2 separate regions of the Homo sapiens genome follow, and region 1 is linked to region 2. Evidence: fine-mapped expression QTL. Tissue or cell type: esophagus mucosa. Region 2 holds a variant in brackets; the other region holds the start of a gene. All regions are shown on one strand. Distances are between the middles of the regions.

Evidence for each region. PIP is the estimated chance that this variant, and not a neighbour inherited with it, causes the effect.
Region 1: it holds the start of MMP24OS, and the variant in region 2 is fine-mapped to the expression of MMP24OS in esophagus mucosa (GTEx, PIP 0.96).

Annotation. Positions count from the first base shown.
Region 1 is chr20:35,273,985-35,281,984 of GRCh38, reverse strand. MMP24OS (MMP24 opposite strand) reads left to right here and starts at 3,863. Exons shown (of 2, transcript NM_001355003.2): 1 at 3,863-3,976; 2 at 4,053-5,633. The coding sequence starts at 4,056. The coding sequence ends at 4,271. MMP24-AS1-EDEM2 (MMP24-AS1-EDEM2 readthrough) reads left to right here and starts at 3,863. Exons shown (of 15, transcript NM_001355008.2): 1 at 3,863-3,939. It overlaps MMP24 (matrix metallopeptidase 24), which reads right to left. Exons shown (of 9, transcript NM_006690.4): 9 at 4,987-7,713. The coding sequence ends at 7,376. EIF6 (eukaryotic translation initiation factor 6) reads left to right here. Exons shown (of 7, transcript NM_002212.4): 4 at 1,156-1,331; 5 at 1,867-2,043; 6 at 2,238-2,419; 7 at 2,779-3,067. The coding sequence ends at 2,788. RefSeq lists silencers at 3,684-3,903, 3,994-4,213 and enhancers at 4,344-4,513, 4,634-4,733, 5,320-5,927, 5,928-6,535.
Region 2 is chr20:34,999,445-35,007,444 of GRCh38, reverse strand. It overlaps MYH7B (myosin heavy chain 7B), which reads right to left. Exons shown (of 45, transcript NM_020884.7): 37 at 7,750-7,874; 38 at 7,539-7,654; 39 at 6,756-7,152; 40 at 6,552-6,677; 41 at 6,287-6,457; 42 at 6,096-6,200; 43 at 5,919-6,014; 44 at 5,360-5,497; 45 at 5,008-5,268. The coding sequence ends at 5,257. TRPC4AP (transient receptor potential cation channel subfamily C member 4 associated protein) reads left to right here. Exons shown (of 19, transcript NM_015638.3): 15 at 870-1,010; 16 at 1,642-1,750; 17 at 2,875-2,987; 18 at 3,829-4,035; 19 at 4,162-5,041. The coding sequence ends at 4,299. Among named protein-coding and RNA genes, the nearest start is that of MIR499B, 13 kb to the right of the region's middle. The variant A/G (reference allele first, on the strand shown) is at 3,126.

The sequences.
Region 1 (8,000 bases), 270 kb before region 2:
GTGCTGCTATGTTTTTTTAGTGAACACATGTACATATTTCTACTGGGTATATGATACCTAAGAGTGGCATGGCAGAGTCACAGGTTATGTGACTATTTAGTAGTAGTTGCAGATGATGCCAGATAATTATCTAAAGTGATTGACCAACTTACACTCCTGTCTCAGTATGAGAGTTCAGTTGCTCCATATATCTTTGCCAACACTTGGAATTGATGACTTGTAAAAATTTTAGTCATTCTGGCTGGGGGCAGTGGCTCACACCTGTAATCGTAGCACTTTGGGAGGTCGAGGTGGGCGGATCACCTGAGGTTAGGAGTTCGAGACCAGCCTGGCCAACATAGTGAGACCCCATCTCTACAAAATCACAAAAAGTTAGCCAGGTGTGGTGGCACGCACTTGTAATTCCAGCTACTCAGGAGGCCGAAGCAGGAGAATCACCTGAACCCAGGATGCAGAAGTTGCAGTGAGCTGAGATCGCACCACTGCGCTCCAGCCTGGGTGACAGAGTGAGACTCTGCCTTAAAAAATAATAATCTAGCCATTCTGCTATGTGTGTAGTGTTAGCTCAGTTTTTTTTGTTTTTTTGTTTTTTTTTTTTGGAGACGGAGTTTCGCTCTGTCACCCAGGTTGGAGTGCAGTGGCGCGATCTCGGCTCACTGCAAGCTCCGCCTCCCGGGTTCACGCCATTCTCCTGCCTCAGCCTCCCGAGTAGCTGGGACTACAGGCGCCCGCCACCACGCCTGGCTAATTTTTTGTATTTTTAGTAGAGACGGGGTTTCACCGTGTTAGCCAGGATGATCTCGATCTCGATCTCCTGACCTTGTGATCTGCCCACCTCAGCCTCCCAAAGTGCTGGGATTACAGGCGTGAGCCAACACGCCCGGCAGCTCAGTTTTTAAGTAGCAAAATATACAGCTAATGCCAAGAGCTCAGCTTCCCTCCCAGTTGGTGATGGTGAAGTAGGCAGGATTTATTGGGATTCCTGGGTGGTCTCTGGCCTGCCCTGGGTGTTTTCCAGATCAGTGGGTTGGAGGGCTGGGCTCTGGGCCTAAAGCTTTCCTGGGAAAGCTGATTGGGCTGGGCTGAGTGGTATCCTCAGCCCCTAGGGCTCAGCAGGCATCTTGTGTATTCACCCTCTAATTTGGGTTTCTCCAGGGAACAGGCACGGTCTCCTGGTACCCAACAATACCACCGACCAGGAGCTGCAACACATTCGCAACAGCCTCCCAGACACAGTGCAGATTAGGCGGGTGGAGGAGCGGCTCTCAGCCTTGGGCAATGTCACCACCTGCAATGACTACGTGGCCTTGGTCCACCCAGACTTGGACAGGGTGAGGCAGCCCAACTTGACCCAAGAGTCACAGGGCCATCCTAGTCAGTGGTTAGCCACTGTTCTTTCCCAACAGGCAGCAATTAGGGGTCTCTCCTGTGGTTTTTCTATATGGGCTCTTGAGTTTCAGGTACTCATTGGAATAGTGATAACAGAGGCCTTATCAAGTGTCAGAAAGAAGCTGGGGAGGGTATGAATCCTTCATGATTGGGGAGATTGAACCATCCAGTCCTGCATCCTGGGCCAGGATAGGTGATTGACTGTTGAACTTTTGACTGTGGGTGAGAGGGGAAAGAAGTGATATTGAGACCAGCCTCCAGCTGTTCAGGGCATGCATGAATATTAGGGGCTTCACAGCTGCCCTTGACTCTGCTCTAAGCTGTACTTCCTCCTTTCTCTGGGTGAGGCTTTCATATGAGGTACAGAGGAGAAATGAGGGGCTCAGGGAGCCAAGGCCTGGATGCTTCTGGGCATGGAGAACCTTGGTTCTGGGGCTGTAAGTTCTGAGCCCTGAACACAATATCTTTGATTGACAGGAGACAGAAGAAATTCTGGCAGATGTGCTCAAGGTGGAAGTCTTCAGACAGACAGTGGCCGACCAGGTGCTAGTAGGAAGCTACTGTGTCTTCAGCAATCAGGGAGGGCTGGTGCATCCCAAGACTTCAATTGAAGACCAGGATGAGCTGTCCTCTCTTCTTCAAGTCCCCCTTGTGGTAAGCATTCCTGTCCTCTGAACCCCGTCTCCCGAGGCAGATCCTTTTGCCTAGTGTTTGGGAGTCTGGGTCATTACCTGCCACAGTTTGGGACTGGGGCTGCAGGTCAGGGAGGAGCAGGGTTTGGGGAGAGTCTTCATTGAGGAGGGAGAGAATTTGGTGCCGTGACTCACATTGAGCCCATCCCTTGGCAGGCGGGGACTGTGAACCGAGGCAGTGAGGTGATTGCTGCTGGGATGGTGGTGAATGACTGGTGTGCCTTCTGTGGCCTGGACACAACCAGCACAGAGCTGTCAGTGGTGGAGAGTGTCTTCAAGCTGAATGAAGCCCAGCCTAGCACCATTGCCACCAGCATGCGGGATTCCCTCATTGACAGGTACCTGGGGCCTCTCCTTTCTTCTGCTCAGGGTTGGGGGTTAACTTGCATTTTGAGAGTATGGGGAAAAGATGTCATCTAGAATGGGAGCCTACCAGTTTGTTCTGGTAGCTTCTCGAGTGTGAGAGCATATCTGTACACTGCTGAGCAGATAAGAGCCAGCATATTCAAAAAATATTTCTTGAGCATCTGCTAATCCTCATCTTTGTGGTTTTTCAGGGCTAGGATACTAGAGCAGTAGCTGCTTGAGCAGCTTGTCAGAGCTGGTCCCGGGATGAGGGCTGAGGCAGGCACCTCACTTGAGAGTGAGGTGGGCTCTGTGAAACAGCTACTGACCGTGCGCTTTCCTTTCTCTTCAGCCTCACCTGAGTCACCTTCCAAGTTGTTCCATGGGCTCCTGGCTCTGGACTGTGGCCAACCTTCTCCACATTCCGCCCAATCTGTACCGGATGCTGGCAGGGAGGTGGCAGAGAGCTCACTGGGACTGAGGGGCTGGGCACCCAACCCTTTTCCACCTGTGCTTATCGCCTGGATCTATCATTACTGCAAAAACCTGCTCTGTTGTGCTGGCTGGCAGGCCCTGTGGCTGCTGGCTGAGGGTTCTGCTGTCCTGTGCCACCCCATTAAAGTGCAGTTCCCTCCGGGCCATTCTGAATGTGATGTTTGGGGCCCTCAGCCTGTGTACAATCCCTGCACTCTCCAGTTGTTCCAGCATTCTGGGAAGATAGGGTGGGATGAACACAACACACACCCAACCCAGTTCACCACCTCCACACACGCCATTCCCTTCTCCTCTACCATCAGGATGTGAGGCTTCATCCTGGGGCAAGAAACACTCTCCACTACAGTTCTCCTTTTTTCTTTTTTCTTTTTGAGGCAGTGTCTCCCTCTGTCACCCAGGCTGGAGTGTTGTGACGCAAGGATGGCTCACTGTAGCCTTGACCTGTTGGGCTCAAGCGATCCTCTCGCCTCGTTTATTTTTTTGTAGAAACGAAGTCACTGTGTTGCCCAGGCTGGTTTATACTCCTGAACTCAAGCGACCCACCGCCTCGGCCTCCCAAAGTGTTGGGATTACAGGCGTGAGCCACGGCGCCCGGTCTAGTTCTCACAGTTTTCACCCGACTTCTGCGCCGGTCTTCTCTGGCCTTGAAAGGCAGAGAGTCCGTTCCGATTTTCCCCTGAGCTGGGCAAGTCCCCTGTGAGAGCTCTGGGGCATCTGGCTTCGGGGCATTCTTTGACTAAGGTGGATGGAGGTTGCAGGTCTTTTCCTGGGTGGGCGTGGGGCGGGGCAGCGGGTTCCCAGCGTCCTCCTGGCCTGGGCGTCTTGGAGGCTGTTGGGGTGCATTCCGTCCCCTTGCGCGGGGCGGGGCCTTGAGGCGCTGGGGCGGGATTGGCGGGGGACGGTCGCGGAGCCCCGCCCCGAAGCACAGGGTCGAGTCCCTTCTTTCCGCTCCAACGCACGGAGGGTGAGGTCGGTACGCGGTGGTGGCGTCACGGCGCCAGCTCCTCCCGACGCCGAGGTGGGTTCCGGGAGACCCGCGGGTCTGGCTGCGAGAGGTGAGGGCAGAGCCGGGGCGGGGCCCTAGCGGGGTGTCCCGGCGACCCAGACCTTAAAGGGCTTCTCTTCTTGCAGACCATGGGGGCTCAGCTAAGCGGCGGCCGCGGCGCCCCGGAGCCTGCGCAAACCCAGCCCCAGCCCCAGCCCCAGCCTGCGGCGCCGGAGGGCCCGGAACAGCCCCGGCATCCGCCCCAGCCCCAGCCCCAGCCCCAGCCCCAGCCCCAGCCCGAGCCCAGCCCGTGGGGGCCGCTGGACGACGTGCGCTTCCTCATCGCCTGCACTTCCTGGTACTGACGGCGTCCTCCGCAGGATGTCGCCCGTCTGTCCGCCGTCCCCTGTGGTTCTTGCCTGCCTTGTCTCCTCTCCCCACGTCCCTGCGTCTCTTACACCCCCTCCCACCCGAGGCTCCCCAGAGATAGCAGAGAATTCGAAGAGGTCGCCGGGGACTGGAAAGAAGTCCCGGCAGGGCCGCCTTCGCAGTCTACACCCCAGCCTGCTTCCCAGCCTACACCCAGACCCAGCTCAGACCTTCGTGACCACCCCATCCCTTTCTCCGGCTGGCTGGGTCGGGGGCATCCCTCTCTGTCGCTGGCTTCCAGAGGCAGGACAGGCCTCCTGGTAAGCCCGCAAAGTTGCTGACCTCCTGACTTCGTCTGCCTTTTATTAATATCTGTATTGCTGATAACCGTGCTCTTGACTATGTGTCCCAGGTCATGTCCCAGGTCATGGAGAAGCCCGTGCCACAGTGACCCTCCCCATACTCCTGGGGGGGCTGCTCTCCATCCTGGATCGTAAGGAGGCATCATCAGGCTGTGTTCCTGGAACCCCAATAACCCTGGGCCCCCAGGGCCAGCCTGTTGTAGAGGGAGGCTATCTGACCGCCGGTCTGGCAGAGGAGATGGGTGGGCAGCTCCCAGACACCCCAAAGGACCCGGTTCTCTTCCCAGAGCGTCCTAAGGTTACTCTTGGAACCTGATCTTTGTTCCCTCATCCCAGGGAAATGACACACTCTGTATTTCTGTTTTATTTAGAAATGATTTAAAAAACATTATACAAAGGCTGATCAGTTTAAAATGTGACTGACACTGAAATGCTGTGATGTCCCCCAGGCTGAGGGGAAGCTAGGCTCTGGGGCCCCCAGTGCTTTGCCCCTCTGTCTGCCCTGTCCTGGGGTGATGGACAAACAGATGACCACAGGCAGGAGAATCTGAGATTGGAAGCCTCTAGGCTGAGCCCTCTGGGCCTGGCCCCACATCCCTCACCTCTGCAGCCTGGGCTGCCTGCCTCCATCTCCTGTTCATTCTCAGCTGGCCTGCCAGGAGCCAATGGGGAGCCTGGCGGGAGGCGGGGGTGCCTAGAGCTTTCAAGAAGTGAGAGCACCAACCTGAGGAGTGGACAGGGACCAGGAAGTGGGGGAAGGGAGGCCAGGAAGAGGTGGATACAGGAGACACTTCTCATCTCATCTCAGACCCTAGAGGGGTCCACAGATGGGGACACAAGACCCAGCCAGCCCACTGGATGGCCCGGGCAAGTAACAACCTCTCTGTGCTTCATCTGAGGGCACGGTGAGAGTTACCGTCGGCCTCCCAGGGCCTAACACGAGTTTCATGTGAGTGGACAGGTGTGAGCTAATAAAGTGCTTTGCAAAGTATAAAACACTGTACAAACCTATGAATCACTAATATCTCCGCAGTTGTTCCCTGCCTGTCCCAGGGAGCCTGCCCTTGGCCAAAATGAGAAAAAACAAGGATGATGACAGGGGACACAGCGGACCCACATGGGCACCTCTGGGACAAGAGATTTTGCTTGAGACAGCTCCCAGGGCAGCAGGAGTCCCTGTCTGTGCTACAGGGTAAGCCGACCCCAATCCCAGAGACCACAGGGTCGGGGGCAAGGCCCATGCAGGCTCAGTGAGCAGGGGTGGCATCCGAGACCCGGCCAGCACGCTGGAGACTGCCTGACACCTTTTTGGCTTTGGCAGAGAGCCAGTGGGCATTGATGAACCCATTGGCCTTGTCTAGGGCTCCTCAGTGACAAGCAGGGCTGCCTCCGCCGTACTGTGGAGCAAGGCAGGCCAAGCCCTAGGAACTCCTGCTGGAGACAGTGAAGGGCGGGCCAGTGAAGGTCAAAAAGGGAGCCCCCTCAGCTTGGGGCTGCTACCGGTAGGGGTGTCCTTCTAAGAGCAGTGTGGGAAGATGGGCCCAGTGAGCGAGGTCAGCAAGGGCCAAGCTCTGGGAAAACACTGCTTCCAGCCGAGAGATTGAGTCGGCCTCAGAGTAGCTGGAGTCGGCCTCAGAGTAGTGGGGGCACTGAGCACTTCAGACGCCCTGGTCCCCTTCCGAAGGACTCCCAGGCTCTGCCAGTGTTGGCCCTGCAGCCATCTCTGCCTCACCTAACTGGTGAGGCTGAGCTCCAGGCTGCAAGTGACAGACTGGAGCAAAGCTGGGGACAGTGACAATAGAGGGGAGTGGAGGACGGTCACAAACTCGGATCTTCCTCCAGAAATGGGGTCAGCTTCTGCCCCAGCTCTGTAGCCATAGGAGCAGAGCTCAGCTACTGGGGTGTCTGGGCGCTAGAGTGGCCTTAGCAGCACCTTGGTCCTTGTCGCCTGGGGGAGGGCCGCTATGCTGGCCTCATCACCAAGACAGTCACCTCTAGTTCACCTAAAGCCTCAAGCAGCCTTTGCAAAATGGGACAGTAGTGACAGGACATTTAAATATTCACGATGTGACAGCTGGGTCCTTGTCAGACCCAGCTGGGCCACAGCCCTGCCTGCAGCATGTGACCCTAAATCCTGGGTCTCCGAAGAGACCCTGACAAGTGGAGCAGGTTTCCTGAGGGATCTGCCGTCTGCCAGCAGGGAAACCCAGGCTTGTTGCTCACTGTGTCAGAAGCAGGGGTCCTGTAGCCTTGGAGGACAGTGGGGTGGGGGTAGGGGGACATCTGACCAGCAGGTGTTGGCAAAAGGGGACCAGGACTGGTGGTATCTCCCGGATGGGGGATGAGAGCTAGTGCTGGCTTCCCACAGAGGGTGCTGGGTTCCAGCCAGGAGTGGAGCTGTGGTACCTCATGGACACCACAGGATGCCGTGACCACAGGGGCTCCTCCTGGCATGGTCCCTGCCTCCGGATGGAGCCTGGCCTATTCCCTTAAGTAGGGAGTAGTTTGCCCAGGACAGAAGGCTGGCAGCTGGGTGCCAGACACCCACCCTGGGGCACAGCCCCCATAATTCCCTGCCCCACGCTCAGCCTAGGCCAATGCACCCACCACTTCAGCTGTACGACCCCAGCCTAGGGCCCTGCTGGCCCTGGTGAGCACTGGCCAGAGCTGCCCCTCAGACCCTGGTGAGGAAGGGCCTGGCTGGCCAGACCAAGTGGATAGAGAGGGCTCTGGGCTGCTCACACCCATTCCTGGACTGGCCGCTTATAGTAGGTGACAGGCTGAGGGCCTGTCTTGTTCTTGAACTGGAAGATGGTGTAGACCAGCACCAGGATGCAGAGGGACAGGATGCAGGGGATGACCACGGCCACGGCGTTCACGGAGCCCGGCACATCGTTGATGGTCACCATGATGTCCACGTCGTCCTGGGGCAGCCGCCGCTCCTTCCGCCGCTCCACCTCCTTCTGGTTGCAGCCCATCCAGTCACGCAGGATGTTGCGCGGGTAGCCTGGCTCCACGCTCAGTTTCTGGTTGTCAAACTTCCAGTAGTCCCGGCCCTTGTAGAAATAGGTGTAATCTGCAGAAATACAGCCCAGCATCACCACTCCCAGACACTTCCGGCACCTGCTCTGGGGCAGTGTGAAAAGGAGGGCACAGGCACTGTGGCAAGGGAGGCAAGGTGGGCACACCTGGAGGTTTGGGGTGCAGTGCTTGGCTGAGTCATGGAGTAAGAAGCTGCAGAGGGGGGCACCCGGGACCTGGAGTGGTCCGCCTGTCATCCTACGGGTGCTAGGAAACCAGAGGGGCTTCAGGGAGAACTGGGACATGGTTCACTTTGTGCTGCCCAGACAGGACCCCTTGCAC
Region 2 (8,000 bases):
TCGTGACTTCCAAATGCCTGTGCAGGCTGCCTTAGATTTTGCCCTGGGTTTCCAACTGTGGGTTCCCCATGGGTGCTTACGGGGTGACAGGTTTAGAGGGTGGCCAGGCCATGCAGGAGGGTGACAGTTTGGTTACCCAGCAAGGCATTTTGACCCTGAAGATATTTTGTACTAAAAGTTAATTTTCCTTTATTGAATAATGGTCTTCAGAAAAAGTAAAACTTAGAGCAGAATGGCCAAAGTTATAATTGGTCTTTCAGATTTTTTCATATGGACAAGAAACTGACCCACGAATTATAAAATCCATGTGGAAAAGAATTGATCCAAATCAATGTAACTTCAAGAAAATGTAGAAAACTTTATAAAGGAGTAAATTGGCTTTATTCTCTTGATGAAAACTCAGTATTTTGGTGTAAACTCTATTTAAACAATTTCGTTCATAAACACAAAGACAAACCATGGGGTCAAAATGTGTCCTTTGCTTTTAAATTCTGTCCTTCATTTACTTGAATGACCTCAGTGCTTAGGCAGTGGCCTGTGTTTTAGACCTGGTGATGACAGCTCCCCTCACCTAGGAGCTGAGCACCCCGGCCATCTTGGTGACCACAGAGCAGGTCACAGGCTTCAGCTGTACGCCCTGGGCAGGGGAGAGATTGTGCTGCATTCCCAGTCTGCTCCACCTCCTGGTGAGGTCTGTCAGGCCTGGTCCTGTCCTTGGAGCCACCAGCATCCTCAGACAAGAATCTAGACAGTGTTGCCAGTTCCATCCCCAGGATGCTTGCTCAAAGCCAATGCATGGTCTGAGCTCCATGCCAGGCCCTGGTGGGGGCAGCCACGTTGACACCTTCACCCTGTCCCTCCTCACCCAGCACATCCTTTACTGCATTGTGGACAGCGAGTGTAAGTCAAGGGATGTGCTCCAGAGTTACTTTGACCTCCTGGGGGAGCTGATGAAGTTCAACGTTGATGCATTCAAGAGATTCAATAAATATATCAACACCGATGCAAAGGTAAAGTTAACCCAGGGCTCTGTGGAGTGTGCTGGGTTGTCCAGAAGTTCACCTGGAGTCCTGGTCTGCCAGGCTTTAGGCACAGGTTTTACGTTAGAGACGACGGGGGAGTCTGGGCAGTCTTTGGCAAACATTCATTGGAACCTGCTCTGTCTGGCTTTGTGCTAGACCCTGGGAATGCAGGGATGAAAACCGGGGCTGCTTGTGGGTAGGGAGTGAGGGTGGGAATGGGTGGCTTGTGCGCCTGCCGTGACGCAGCATGGTGGGTGCCACGGTGGGAGCCGCTGTAGGGAGGGACTGGGCCTGGTGTGTTAGGCTCACCGAGTGTGTGTGACAGAAACCCAGCTCAGGCTAGCTGAAGTAAAATTAAAAGTAAAAATTAAAGGAATCCAGCACCCTTGAGCGTAAAACCACTGGAGAGAGTGTCGGATCTGTGCTGAATTCCGGGGAGTGCCTCTTAGTACCTGGGTGGTGAGGGGAGGTCCCTCAGCTTATCTGAGCCTCTGTCTTCCTATCTGAAGCAGTGGGGCTGGTAGAGGTCGCTGATGCCCCTTGTAGTGACTATCCCCCCGGGCCATGGCCATACCTGGCCAGCAGCCCACTGCCTGCTGTGAGCTTGGTTTCTGTATAGTTCCAGGTATTCCTGAAGCAGATCAACAGCTCCCTGGTGGACTCCAACATGCTGGTGCGCTGTGTCACTCTGTCCCTGGACCGATTTGAAAACCAGGTGGATATGAAAGGTACATGAAAGGCAGGCTGTCAAGGCAAGTCATGCAGGGTAAGAATGCTGGCATCAGACACCCTGTCTCCAGCAGGGAGACAAGAATGACTGAGGGAGCTGCACCAGATGCCCACGTGGCCGGCCTCAAGGTGGCGGCTTCCAGGGCAATTGGCTTTGCTGCCTTGTTCAACACTTTAATAAGGTGAAAATCCATTGTTGCTAGCAAGATGCAAAGAAAACCAGAAAAAGACCTTCCTCTTCTGGGCTGGTATTGCCTGGCACGATGAGTTGGCCCCCTCGTCCTCAGTGTGCTGTGCGTGGCATCGCAGGTGCCCTGTGGTGCAGCAGGCATCTGAACCCTCCTGGACTTGCTAACGCACTTCCATGTGTATGCGCACGCGTTTCCTTTTTTTCCTAGGAGAGGGCTTGTGGCATCCAGCAGATTCTCCTGAGGGTTTGTGACCCCCCCACACCCCCAAAAAGTCAGGCACTTGTTCCTTGTCACGGTCACTGTCATTGATAGCAAGAAGTATCCCGGTTGTTGGTAATTTAGCCGTTTGCTTCCTTTTTCTGCCCCAGAGGGTCTGTTTCAGGGGAACAGCCACACAGATTTTGGTACCTTCGGTTATTGCCCTGCCTCCCAGTTGTGCGGGAAGCAGTTGCTCCGACACTAGTGGACGGAGCAGAACCTGTGCCTTGTGGTCTCAGCACTGGGCCGGACTCACCTGAGAGCTGGTGTGGAAAACCAGTTGCGCTAGGACCTCTGCAGAAGGAGTGGAACTTTTGCGTTGTTTTTCTTAATGCAGCGTCATGGATCCATCTTCCTGTGGAGGGAACTCTTCTGTGTGTGATATGGAGGGCACGGGTCTGGAGCCAGTCTGGGGAGGGCTGAGGGAGAGCTGCCCTGAGCTTGGTTCTGGAGGATGAGGTGGGGTGCTCCTGGGCACTCTGAGAACATGGCTTTGCCTGGTAGCAGGACAGCTGGAGGTCCTTCTTTCTGCCACAGTCAGCTTTCGTTGAAGCTGTTTTGATGATGAGCTCCTAGCTTCAGAGTCAGGACCCAAGCGGGGCTCCACGAAAGGCCTGGGCGACCCAGCCACTGGGCCTAAGCCTGACCTGCTGCACCCCTGCCTCCCTCCACAGTTGCCGAGGTACTGTCTGAATGCCGCCTGCTCGCCTACATATCCCAGGTGCCCACGCAGATGTCCTTCCTCTTCCGCCTCATCAACATCATCCACGTGCAGACGCTGACCCAGGTGAGAGGCCCCGGCAGACACACAGCAGGGAAGGTCGATTGGAAACCACTTCCTTTGTCCTGGTGCCCAGCAGGTTTCTGTCCCCCACTCCAGAAGTGCGTCTCTGGAGACCCAGCTCTTCTGAGGACTGTGCTCAGG[A/G]GGAATCAGTGTCCCATTGTACAGACAGGGCCTAAGGAAGGAGGGCTCGCAAGTGCCCTCAGGTCACAGGCTGACTTGCAGGCCAGTGCTCTCCCCGCCTCCCCCATGTCCACGTCCCTCACACCTTCTGCCCTGCTGGGCTTTGGAATCGGACCTGAGGCTGCCCAACTCCCTCACTGAATAGTCATGCAGCCTTCCCTTCTCTGAGCCTCCTGCCCCTCTTTTCTAGAGTGAGGGTGATCTTAGCACCTCTCAGAGGTGGTCTTTGGTTCCGTTCTGAGGTGAAGCACCAGGTGGGAGTGCATGGTGAGTGGGGCAGAACTCTTTCCCCACCGAGGCGCGCAGGCTAGTGCTGAATGGCACTTCTGAAGCGGGATAACCGCCCCAACACACGCACCCAGCCCTGCCTGGGACGGACCTTCCGGAAGGAGTGATGCTTGAGCCCAGGTCTGGACAGGGACAGGTGTTGTTGCCTCAGGTGGGGTGGGAGGTGGGCGTGGGGAAGAGGAAGGTGCTCAGTCAGGAAACTGGGGCTGCTGGGGGCCCCCTTCCCCCAGTCCTATCTCACCTCTGTGCAGGGAGAGCTCTGTGGGTGGCCCGAGGCCTGGGGCCACTCTCCTCCCTGCCTGATGGCTACCCAGGTTCACCAGGGGCCACTGGGGCTCCCACCAGCCCCTGACCCTGTGGGCCTGTGGCCTTGCAGGAGAACGTCAGCTGCCTCAACACCAGCCTGGTGATCCTGATGCTGGCCCGACGGAAAGAGCGGCTGCCCCTGTACCTGCGGCTGCTGCAGCGGATGGAGCACAGCAAGAAGTACCCCGGCTTCCTGCTCAACAACTTCCACAACCTGCTGCGCTTCTGGCAGCAGCACTACCTGCACAAGGACAAGGACAGCACCTGCCTAGAGAACGTGAGTGCCCCACCCTCAAGGGGGTGATGGGTGGGCCGCGGACCCAGGGCCTCTCAGAGGGGTGTCCCGGTGCTGGGCTTGACCTGGGTCCTCCAGGCGCCCCCCAGCCCCTCCCTCTTTGCCCAGAGCTCCTGCATCAGCTTCTCATACTGGAAGGAGACAGTGTCCATCCTGTTGAACCCGGACCGGCAGTCACCCTCTGCTCTCGTTAGCTACATTGAGGAGCCCTACATGGACATAGACAGGGACTTCACTGAGGAGTGACCTTGGGCCAGGCCTCGGGAGGCTGCTGGGCCAGTGTGGGTGAGCGTGGGTACGATGCCACACGCCCTGCCCTGTTCCCGTTCCTCCCTGCTGCTCTCTGCCTGCCCCAGGTCTTTGGGTACAGGCTTGGTGGGAGGGAAGTCCTAGAAGCCCTTGGTCCCCCTGGGTCTGAGGGCCCTAGGTCATGGAGAGCCTCAGTCCCCATAATGAGGACAGGGTACCATGCCCACCTTTCCTTCAGAACCCTGGGGCCCAGGGCCACCCAGAGGTAAGAGGACATTTAGCATTAGCTCTGTGTGAGCTCCTGCCGGTTTCTTGGCTGTCAGTCAGTCCCAGAGTGGGGAGGAAGATATGGGTGACCCCCACCCCCCATCTGTGAGCCAAGCCTCCCTTGTCCCTGGCCTTTGGACCCAGGCAAAGGCTTCTGAGCCCTGGGCAGGGGTGGTGGGTACCAGAGAATGCTGCCTTCCCCCAAGCCTGCCCCTCTGCCTCATTTTCCTGTAGCTCCTCTGGTTCTGTTTGCTCATTGGCCGCTGTGTTCATCCAAGGGGGTTCTCCCAGAAGTGAGGGGCCTTTCCCTCCATCCCTTGGGGCACGGGGCAGCTGTGCCTGCCCTGCCTCTGCCTGAGGCAGCCGCTCCTGCCTGAGCCTGGACATGGGGCCCTTCCTTGTGTTGCCAATTTATTAACAGCAAATAAACCAATTAAATGGAGACTATTAAATAACTTTATTTTAAAAATGACTGCTGTGGACCTGGCTTTTGTCCCTAGGACTGTGTTTTTCCTCCTGAACCCCAAAGAAAAGAATGAGAAGGAAACTGGCTGTGGTGTTTATTCAGGGCCCAGGGAAGGCTGAAGGCAGCAGGGGGCGATGCAGAGATGGCAGGATCGGGGCAGGTGGCCTCAGCCAGATGTGCAACAGCAGACATTCCTCTTTAGAGCCCAGGGGGTCAGGCCGTCACTCCTTGTGCTGAGGAGAAAGGGATAGCTGAGTGAGCAGTACTACCTGTCAGCCCCCACAGTCCCCCTGCACAGAGAGCAATGCCCCTGCCACTCCTCACCTTGGGGCCCAGGGCGTCCCGGGTCCGTGCCCGCAGCTTGTTGGCCTGGGTTTCCGCCATGTCTGCCCGCTCCTCCGCATCATCCAGCTCGTGCTGGGCCTTGCGATACTTGGCCAGGTTGGTGTTGGCCTGCTGCTCCTGGGGGCACACACAGGGCCTTGGTTCCGCTTGGGTGACTGAGATGCTTATTCTGGTCCCTGCCCCAGTCCAAGAAGGGAGCTAGCTCCTCCTGGTTCTCAACTTTGTTCCTATTGCCACTGTCCATCCTCACCAATACCACAGCGGGAATAAGGAAGTTGGGACGCACCAACTTCATGTGCCTTTTTGTGCCTGCCCCACCCCTCAGAGGCAGCCCCAGCCTTGGCCAGGGGAAAGCACATGGGGTCTGTTCCATGAGAAGGAGCTAGGTCTGATCTCCCCAGAGATGTTAGAAGCTTCTCTCTTCCCTCTGGGTCACTGACCTTGGAGGGTGGAGCTGCTGCTGATGCCTCACCTGGCCACAGACCCTGGGGCAGAGCTGGGGTGCCCGGTCCAGGTGTCCAGGCCCCAGCGCACTCACCGCCTCCTCAAACTGGCGCTTGTAGCTCTTGACCTTGCTCTGCAGCTTGTCCACCAGGTCCTGCATGCGAGCCAGGTTCTTCCTGTCCTCCTCGGCCTGGGCGGGCAAGGGGGACTCAGGGCTTGCTTGGGCTGGGCCAGCTCCAGGGCCACTCCCCAGGGAGACCCTGTCGCCCACCTGGTATGCGAGCTCCTTGACACGGCGCTCATGCTTGCGCACGCCCTTAAGGGCCTCGGCGTGCTTCTTCTGCTCTGCATCAAGCTCAGCCTCCAGCTCCCGTACCTGCAGGCAGGGGGACAGCCTGATGCCAAGCCCACCCCTGGGTCACCCACCCTGCCTGCGCCAAGGACTAGAGGGGCTGCACACACCTTGGCCTCCAGCTTCTGCACCTGCTTCTTCCCGCCACGGAGGGCGGCCTGTTCTGCCTCCTCAAGGCGGGCCTGGAGCTCGCGCACCGTCTGCTCCAGCGTCTTCTTCATCCGTTCCAGGTGTGCACTTGTGTCCTGCTCCTTCTTCAGCTCCTCGGCCATCATGGCCGCCTGTTGGGGAGGAGGAGCTGGTCAGGTGCCCAGCCTCAGGGAAGTCCCTCTGCAATTCTGTCCCAGGCTCCCCACAGCCCTTGCCCAGCCTCACATCAGTGATGGCCTTTTTGGCCTTCTCCTCAGCCTCCCGCCTCTCCTGTGCAGCCTCCTCCACCTCCCCGCTCAGCTGGGCCAAGTCCGCCTCCAGCTTCTTCTTCTGGTTTAGGAGGCCTGTGTTCTGAGGGGAAGAGGAGTCTCAGAGCCAGCCAGCCAGCAGGCCTGCACCTGCTCTGTCCCCAGGGACTCCTGTCCCCACCTGCGAATGCAGAAGGTTGAGGCGCTCGGTGGCCTCCAAAAGCTCCTGCTCTGCCAGTCGCCGGCTGCGCTCGCCCTGCTCCAGGGCAGCCCGCAGCTCCTCCAGCTCCGCAGCCAGCAGCGAGGCCCGGCGCTCCAGAGCCTGCGCCTGCTCGTGGAGCTCAGCTGCCAGCCGCTGCTCCTCGTCCCGCCCTGCCTGCTCCTCCTTGAGCTGTGCCTGCATCAGCCGCGTGGCAGCCTGGGCCTCTGTGGCCTGACGGGTGGCATGGCCCAGCTGCAGCTCCAGGTCGTTGAGGTCACCCTCCATCTTCTTCTTGAGCCGCAGCGCCTCATTGCGGGCCCGTGTCTCTGCATCCAGGGAGGCCTGCAGGGACTCCACAGCTCGCTGGTGGTTGCGCCTATGGGAGGAGGGTGGCATGAAAGGGGGTCTCGTAAGGGCATACCTGTCCTTACAAATGCCCAAGGACCGTTGGAAACGAACCCATTTTGAGAACAAATGAGTCACCCCTCCCCGATTTAAAGTCTCTTGTGACTGCCTGTGGCCCATCAGAGCAAGTTCATGGACAAGAGTGAGGCCCAGGCAGACAGAGGTGGACTGACTGGCTCCACCCCCACTGTGTGACTTTGGGCAAGTCCTTTAGCATCTCCGAGGTTCACAGCTAGAATGGAGACAGCAACCCGGACCTCAAAGTCCCATGGGAGGGACAGACTAGAGAGCAGAGTACACACTGCTTCCCTCCCCTTCTGCTCTCGGGAGGTGGGGACGGGAGAAGGATGGACACACCTCAGGTTAGCGCACTCCTCGTCTTTCTCTGCCAGCTTCCGGTCCACTTCTGCTTTGACCTGGGAGAGCTCCAGCTGGATCCGCAGCGTCTTGGTCTCCTCCAGCTCCAGGGCCCCCTGTGGATACAGAGCAGGCAGGGTAGGGTGGGGGGGGGGGATGGCCAGTGGAGCAGCAGGTCAGTGTCCACCCACCCCTGCAGCCAGCCCCTGACCTCTGCCTCCTCCAGTGCAGCCTGGATCTCACTCTTCTCGCCTTCCAGCGCCTTCTTGGTTTTCTCCAGTTCCTGGATGCTCTTCCCACTGAGACTCACCTGGTCTGTGAGGTCGCTGATCTCCTCTGCAGTGGACAGGGTGCTGAGAGGCCACCCCCATGGCTTGTACTCCCACCCAGGTCACTCCACTCACCCCTGATTCCAGGGTGGCCCCACCAGGGCACCCCCATAACTCAAAGTTGCTCCGACCC